Linked DNA regions of Homo sapiens. The protein of the gene in region 1 interacts with the protein of each later gene in a biochemical or structural test. Each region holds a gene or a part of one and is shown on either strand. Other genes may lie near its edges.

The links. Proteins that work in one complex are often made in the same cells at the same time.
Region 2: the proteins of PTPRCAP (region 1) and PTPRC form a complex in vitro, tested with the Homo sapiens proteins (one study listed by BioGRID).

The regions. Positions count from the first base shown.
Region 1 is NC_000011.10:67,435,010-67,439,049, forward strand, and holds PTPRCAP (protein tyrosine phosphatase receptor type C-associated protein), read right to left. Parts: upstream 2,674-4,040; 5' UTR 2,611-2,673; coding exon 2,608-2,610; exon of another isoform or gene 1,342-2,607; coding exon 724-1,341; 3' UTR 501-723; downstream 1-500. Other genes in the region: RPS6KB2 (ribosomal protein S6 kinase beta-2), read left to right, coding at 1-160; CORO1B (coronin-1B), read right to left, coding at 3,367-3,492, 3,662-3,940.
Region 2 is NC_000001.11:198,645,540-198,649,039, reverse strand, and holds part of PTPRC (receptor-type tyrosine-protein phosphatase C isoform 1 precursor), read right to left. Parts: intron 1-3,500. UniProt on the Homo sapiens protein: Protein tyrosine-protein phosphatase required for T-cell activation through the antigen receptor. Acts as a positive regulator of T-cell coactivation upon binding to DPP4.

The sequences.
Region 1 (4,040 bases):
TGAGGGGTTTCGGCCCAGCCCCAGCCTGCCGGAGCCCACGGAGCTACCTCTACCTCCACTCCTGCCACCGCCGCCGCCCTCGACCACCGCCCCTCTCCCCATCCGTCCCCCCTCAGGGACCAAGAAGTCCAAGAGGGGCCGTGGGCGTCCAGGGCGCTAGGAAGCCGGGTGGGGGTGAGGGTAGCCCTTGAGCCCTGTCCCTGCGGCTGTGAGAGCAGCAGGACCCTGGGCCAGTTCCAGAGACCTGGGGGTGTGTCTGGGGGTGGGGTGTGAGTGCGTATGAAAGTGTGTGTCTGCTGGGGCAGCTGTGCCCCTGAATCATGGGCACGGAGGGCCGCCCGCCACGCCCCGCGCTCAACTGCTCCCGTGGAAGATTAAAGGGCTGAATCATGGTGCTGACCTGGCTCTTTGTGCTGCATGCCTAGGGGCAGGGTTGGGTTGGATTGTGCCAGGAGGAGCCCCTGGTCCAGGAGGGAGGGGTCTCTGTAGGACCACAGGGCCACAGGCTGAAGGAGTTTTATTTCAAATGGTTGCCTGATGCCTGTGGTTGGGGGGGGCCGTTCCCGTGGTGAGCGGGGTACACATGGACTTGGGAACTGGTAGGGGGTGACAGTCTGAGGCATGGTCATGTGGGCTGGGGGTCCAGTCCAGCCATGGCATCTTGGGAAGCAGAGGCACGGGGAGTGAGCGGCTGTGACAGGGATGGGACACCAAGACCGGCCTCTACAGTGCGGTGACATGGAGGCCCTGGCCCCCAGCTGCCCTGGCGCTGTCATCCCAGGCTGCGCTGCCAGCAAAGGCGTGCAGGTCACTCAGCAGGGCCTCAGCACTGCCCCCTGCGCTCGCTGGTCCTGGGGAGCCGAGGACCAGGTCGCCCTCCGTGTCACTGTCTCTGGCTTCCTCAGCCCGCACGGGGACCTGCTCTGGGCTGGACGCCTCTCCACATTGCTGCTCGCCTTCCCCAGGGTCAGCCTGCAGGCCACCATCCGCGACGTGGTCATAGTCTGTGTCCTGCTCATCCTCCTGTCGCTCAAGGTCATTGTCTGTGGACCCCAGCTCAGCTCGGGCCTGCAGCCAGCGACCTGGGGGGCTGGCCCAGAGCAGGCGCCGCGTGCGGCCCCACAGCGCGGCACCTAGGCGGGCCGGGTGGTAGTAGCCCCCTGAGTCACGGCTGAGGCGGCGCCAGGCCAGTGCTAGGCCAGTGGCCAGCAGTAGGAGCAGCAGCAGCAGCAGGACAACGGTGACAGAGCTGGAGCCCACGCTGTCCTCCGCGCTGCCACCCGAGCCCAAGGCCCCTGGCAGGGCCAGCAGCATCCCGAGCCCTAAGGTGCAGGGCAGAGCCTGTGGGAGACAGGCAGGGGCTCAGAGGGCTCAGCACCTGGGGTGGGGCCTGGTGTGGGGCAGGCTGGGTGACCAAGACCACTTTCGTTTTTTTCTCTTTGGGATCCTCTTGGGACAGCCAAGCAGAAAAGGCCAAGGCCTTATTTGGTCAACCAGGCTCTGGCCCTGTGAGATCAGCCCCCATCCCTCCAGCCTCCTCCCTACCACTCACCTCCCCCAACAGCTGCATTAAGCCACCTGCCTGGGGCCTTCGCACTGGCTGTTCCCTCTGCCCGGAAAGCTCCACCTCCTCCCATCCTCCCCTCCCCCGGGCTGCATGGCCTGCTCACCGTGCTCAAACTTCACCCCAGTGAGGCTGAACCTGACCTTAACCTCTACCCTGATGTCTATCACTGCAGCCCACCCCAGCACCCCCCAGCACTCAGTGCCTTTTTCCTTCCATGTCACCTAACGCAGGAGATAACTGTACTCATTTTTTATGTCTATTGTCTTATCTACCCCCCACAATAAGCTGCTAGGAAACGGGGGCTTTTTGGGTCAAGCATGTTAGTAGGTGCTCAATAAGTATGGATTAAATGTGTCTAGGCTGCCTGGGTGGGTGGGAGAGGAGATGGGAGGGAGGGAAGGAGGTTGCTAGCTGGTGTCAGGGCTGGCTCTCCCTGAGGCCTGGGATGGGGGATGGAGGGGCCTGGATGCACCCAGAGGCAACTGCTCATCTTCTGCTTGGCCAGGTCCCCAAACGGGGGTCCGTGAGGCCCCTCTTCCTCCCTCCCCACCACGGGGCTGCCCCAGCGGCAGGGTTTCCGTTCCACTCCCAGTCCCTGAGGGCCACAGGCGTGCAGGGCCGGGGGCTGGGGGGGGCTGGGGGAGGCGGGCGCAGCTGCCAGAGGAAGTCTGCGGTCGGAACAGGCTAGGTGGGGGGTGTCGGGGGAGGGGTGCTGAGGTGCAGCCAGCCTCCCCCACCACCCCAGGCTGTCCGCCCAGGCTCCAGGAATGCAAGTTCCCGCTCACAGGAAGACCAGGTAAGGGCCTTCCCAGGGCTCCTGACAGGGGCCTGGTCCGGTATGGGGTGCTGGGGGCCAGGCCTGGAGTCCCAGGGAGCCCAGCTCAGGTGAGAGAAAGGTTCAGCCTCTGCCATACTCCTCTTAGGTCTCACCTCTTCCCTGGGGCCAATGTGGGGCCCTCCTTAGCTCCACAGGCCCAGACATTCTAGCCCCGACCGCCTGTGGCCCCCATCCCAAGAACCCGGGGGGCTCCGAGGCTTACCATTGGTCCGCAGGCCCCTCCGTGCCGGGCACCCACCTCCAGCTCTGGCTGTGTCGAGCGAGAAGTGAGCTCAGTGCTCGTCTGCAGTGAAGGGTGGCCCAGGCTTCCGCTTCCTGCCCACATACCCCACCTGCCCCTCCCTGCTGCAGGACCCCTGGTCCACACCAGACCCTCCCCAGTCTCTCTGGAGGAGGCTGGGCTGCCGGGCCTGTCCTCCAAGGAAGAAGCAGCACCAACTTGAAGCTGGATGCAGCCTTGCATGTGTTCTCAGGTCTTCTGCCTCAGTTTCCCTGCCTGACAATCCAGGGGAGCAATGCCTGTGGGGCTGCTCACTGCCCCCAGACCTTCTGCACATGTGTGACTCCTGTGACATCCTCTGTCTCCAGGTTTCCAGACTTCTCAGCCCCACCCTTGCAGCAGCAGGTCAGCCTGGCTTTTAGAAAGAGAATTTTATTTGGAATGAAAATATAGAGCCCACCCTCCCGCCTCCTCTGGGGAGGGAGCAGAGGGCTGGGCAGTGGTCGGGGAGATGGTCCCTCAGAGGTCGAGGAGCTCGCCTGGGCGTAGACATCCTCCACAGGAACAGTGAGGAAAGCTGGGCGCTGGCTTCGGCCTGGGCCTGGGACGGGTGGGGGTGGGAACTGACCCCTGCGCTGCCTCAGAGGCTCTGGGCAGCCAGCTAGCCCGGTGCGACCCGCTGGCAGAAGCTGAGTGGGAAGGGGGCGGCGGAGGAGATGAAGGTGGCGTGTGGCTGTGGCCCTACGCATCCCCGTTCTCCATGCGGCCCAGCTGCTCCTCCAGGCGGCAGATGCGGTCGCCCTGCTCCTTGACCAGCGCCCTCAGGGCCCGCAGCTCCTGCATCACCTCCTCCAGCTTCCCAGCCTCCTGTGGGGACATGAAGCAGGGGTAGGGGGCGGTGGTCAGGGGCTGCTAAGCCATAGCCCTCCCAAACCCACCACTACCCCAGAGAGGGACAGCGAATGGCTGAAGCCCACACAGCAGGCCAGGGCCACACCTGGGGCTCCCAGCACCACCCCTGCCTGCGCGTGCATACCCCGGCTCTGGCCAGGCTGCCGCTGGGGGTGGCATCAGCAGCAGTGGTGGTGGAGGCGGGGGCCCCTAGGTGGGAGGAGCCCGGGGCCATGGCGGGCCGGCTGTCAGACAACACGTTGCGCCGGCTGATCTTCAGGTCCCGCTGCTTGCTGGGCACGTAGGCCTCCCGCAGTGAGATGAGGATCGGGTCGGCATCCCGCCCGCTCACCCACTCCTCAGCCTCCAGGGCTGCCTCGGGCCCGGCTGTGTCGGGGTACAGATCATCCTGGAAGAGGTCCGACTGGGCAGGGGGCCGGGGAGGTCAGGATCAGTTAGGAGGCCCCATCAGGGTCCCCTCATCCCTCCCCTGGCCTCCAGGCTTGCACTCTGTTAACCCATTC
Region 2 (3,500 bases), on another chromosome or scaffold:
TATGAAAAGATTATCTAGTGTCTACACTTCCTGGAATAAGATGAGAACCTTATGTGTTTTCCATGATCAAAGTGTTTAACAAAGGTCAAGTTACTTCCCTTGCACTTCAAAAACAAAAAAAAATCTAGATACTTTGGTGAATTATTTAATGTTTTTCACTTTATGTAATATCAAAAATGAGTTGGGTGGGGGAAAATCCATTCTTTCCATCATATCACTCACCTCAAGACAGACTCAGTCCTGTCCTTTGTTAGCCTCCTTTTCAGGATGATTGTAACACATCACATCAGTATTCATAGTGAAGACAAATTAATCAAAGATGTCTTTTTGTTTTTTATAAAAGTCATACAATCTTATGTGAATTTTACATAGATACAGAATATGCTAAAGATATAGAAGCAGCTCAGTGCACAATGGTTCATGTAAGTAGCTAAATCAGGTGAATGAACTTACATGCATATGTCACACAAACAACCTCTGAGAAATTACCAGCTCCCATTCAGTCCTGCTGTGATTTGCCCATCATCACACAGTCATGTCTTAAATTCCAGGTTATTAAACTGACCACTAAGAAGATTGAGTAACCGAGTGGAAAATCTAGAATCTGGTCTATCTAGAATCAGATAGACCCCGATTAAGACCCCAGCCTTCACCCCACCCCCTACAACTCTCATTTGCTATTAGCTGGTGACCTTGGAAAATTAGAAAGACTACCAAAAAAAAGTAAGAATTTGTTTGTGTGCTGTGTATTTCTGTATGTTTTCCCTTTTCTCTCCACATAAACATTTTTTCAGAATAAATTACAAAACAAACAAACCAAAACAAAATAGGACTATTGTCTAGTACCTCTTCACATCTACCAACTTTATTTATTGAATATCTAATAATAATCTACACAACTCAGTGGCAGCACCAGAACTTCCATAATTTAAAAGTCTGCAAAGAAAATCTGGTTGTAACAGGGACCTGGAGGAAGTCTTGTAAGAATATAAGTTTTACTTAATATGTTATATATAGATCTTAAGATAGTGATTTTTAAATTTATAATTTATAAAACATTGATAACACCAATAATTATCTGTAGCAAGGTATGTTGTTACTTTGAGGAGGAAGTTTTGGGGTGCTGATGAAGATTTTGGAAGATTTAAAACACCATCTCCAAGAAGCCACTGATAGAAAATACGGGCTTCATGGGATAGGTGTCCTCAGCCCAAATTACATGGAAAACACTCACAAAATAGTTGTTTATCAAATGAACTAATAAGTTAATAAATAACTGAATAGATCTAGTTGTCCTAGTCAAATGAAATACTCAAAAAGTTTTTAGATCCTGAGAACTGGAAACCTGAAATTCTTATTTTTCTATTCATTTCTATATTTTTCAAATTGTCTAGAATAATCAAGGTTTACTTGGGAAAAAATTGAACATGAAATTTCATACACAGCATGTGATCAAAAGATAGAGGAAGAAAAACAAAATGTTAGCATGGGCTCTAAGCAATTTCTTTTTCCTTCTATTTCTTGACATTTTCCAAATTTTCTATTATGTAGAAATTTTTACCATAAATAATTCCCATAAATAACAATAAAAGGACAGAATCAAAATTGTTTTTAAGAATTATTAAGTGCCTTCTACATACAGAGTTGGGTTAAGCTGACAGACCATTCGTTTGTTCAGCAAACAGGTACTGAGGACCTGCAGGCACTGGCAAATAAGCAGAGACCCAGTGATAGCCTACATGAGCTCACCAGTTGCTGCAAGAGAGCCTGGTAAAGAGAACTCCAAGAGAATTATTCAAAGGATCATCACAGCAGAAGAATACCTATGCAGGTGTGAAAGGGGCTGAAGAGCAAGGGTTATACAAGTGGGATAGGGGCTGTCTAGAGGACATGATCTTTACAGTAAATTTGAATACAATTTATAATTTGCACCATTGATAAAAAGATGTGGAGAGAAGGAAAAACAGCATGGCCAACAGTAGGAAGACCAAACAAGGTCACATTTTTAGAAAAATGCAAGTTACAAAAAGAGTCACAAAGTGGTTAGAGATAAAGCCAGACAAATCTGAAGAGATTCAATTACATATGTGTGTGCAATGCTAATTGCTTTTATTTTTCCTAAATGCACAAAGACCAAAGTAGGATGATTTGACACTTTCCCCACACACTATTTTACATTGAGAAGATTTTAAACTTATCACCTTGATTCTTCTCTTTACTTTTTGCTCCAATAATGAATAAGAAATTGGTACTAAGTGTGAAAGCTAATAAGAGGAATACCATACAAATGAATGAGAATTCAAACATAATAATTCCAGGCTATCAAGCAGTCTTAAAAGTGTTTCTAAAGTTTCTATTGGCTAGATAAGAAATAATCGAAAGTCTTAAAATTTCAAAATGAATCTAGCTCAAAGAGCTGTCAATCTCCACATTAATGTCACTGATAGAAATTTCAACACAACAAAAAATTGAGAATGGTTAATATTGCCCGATTTAAGTTTGACAAAAATGAAAAATTACATAAATTATATTTTTTGTAGCATTGAGACACAAAACCAATTAAAAAAACTAAACTAGCGGTAGCCAAAACTACACACAGAAAATGTTTCTGGCCAAAGAGAAGAATTTAAATGGTTTTGGAAAATTTAGATCTGTATTGTTTGAAAAGAAGAATTACCTTTAGAAAAGTAATAATCACAAAGGAAAATTCCAAGCATAAGCTATATTCAGTAGAACTTGACATGGGTAAAATGGATTCATGAATCTAATAGTTATTGTAAAAATTAAATGAAAGTGATGCTGCTAAACATTAGTTCAGTAAAATTAAAATTAAAATGGAAAAACTGCCAAGGATTTCACTAGGTAATATATATATAATCATCAGGGAATTAAATTGGTCTAATGGAGTTTTTTTCCTCCAAAATTTATCTTTAAGGAAAACTCATAAATGTTGGTATATTCTAATTAAATATTTGTTTTCATAAAAGTTGAGCCAAAACATACTTGGTATCAAATCACGGGTTCAGTATATTTTCTACCAATAGGAGCTTTTAAAAGAGGAATGGACAAAGGTAAGTTCTGCCTTTTACAAAGATTATCCTGGTAATGGTGGGTATGGACACAGTAAGGATTGAAGGCAGGTGAGACTTCAGGATATTTTTACACTAAGAAATCCCTGGCAAAGTAGAAGTGTGTGGATTTACAAACTATTTAGACTGTAGAATCTGGAGAAGCCTGAAAAATCTCTGAAATAAAGAATGCAAAGTTAAAAGAATTCAAAGGCCTATAAGGGATTATGCCTCTATCACTTAACCTTAAACTATCCCTTTATCTGCTCACAGTGTCTGAAAGGAAGAGATATCATTTGGAATCAAGTTTATGCTAAAAGGCTATGTGCTCTGATTTCATGGGCTCACATGAAAAAATTTACTTCTCAGAGTATCACATAATTTCAAAGCATTTTCACAAATATTATAACTTTTAATGCTTACAACACTTTA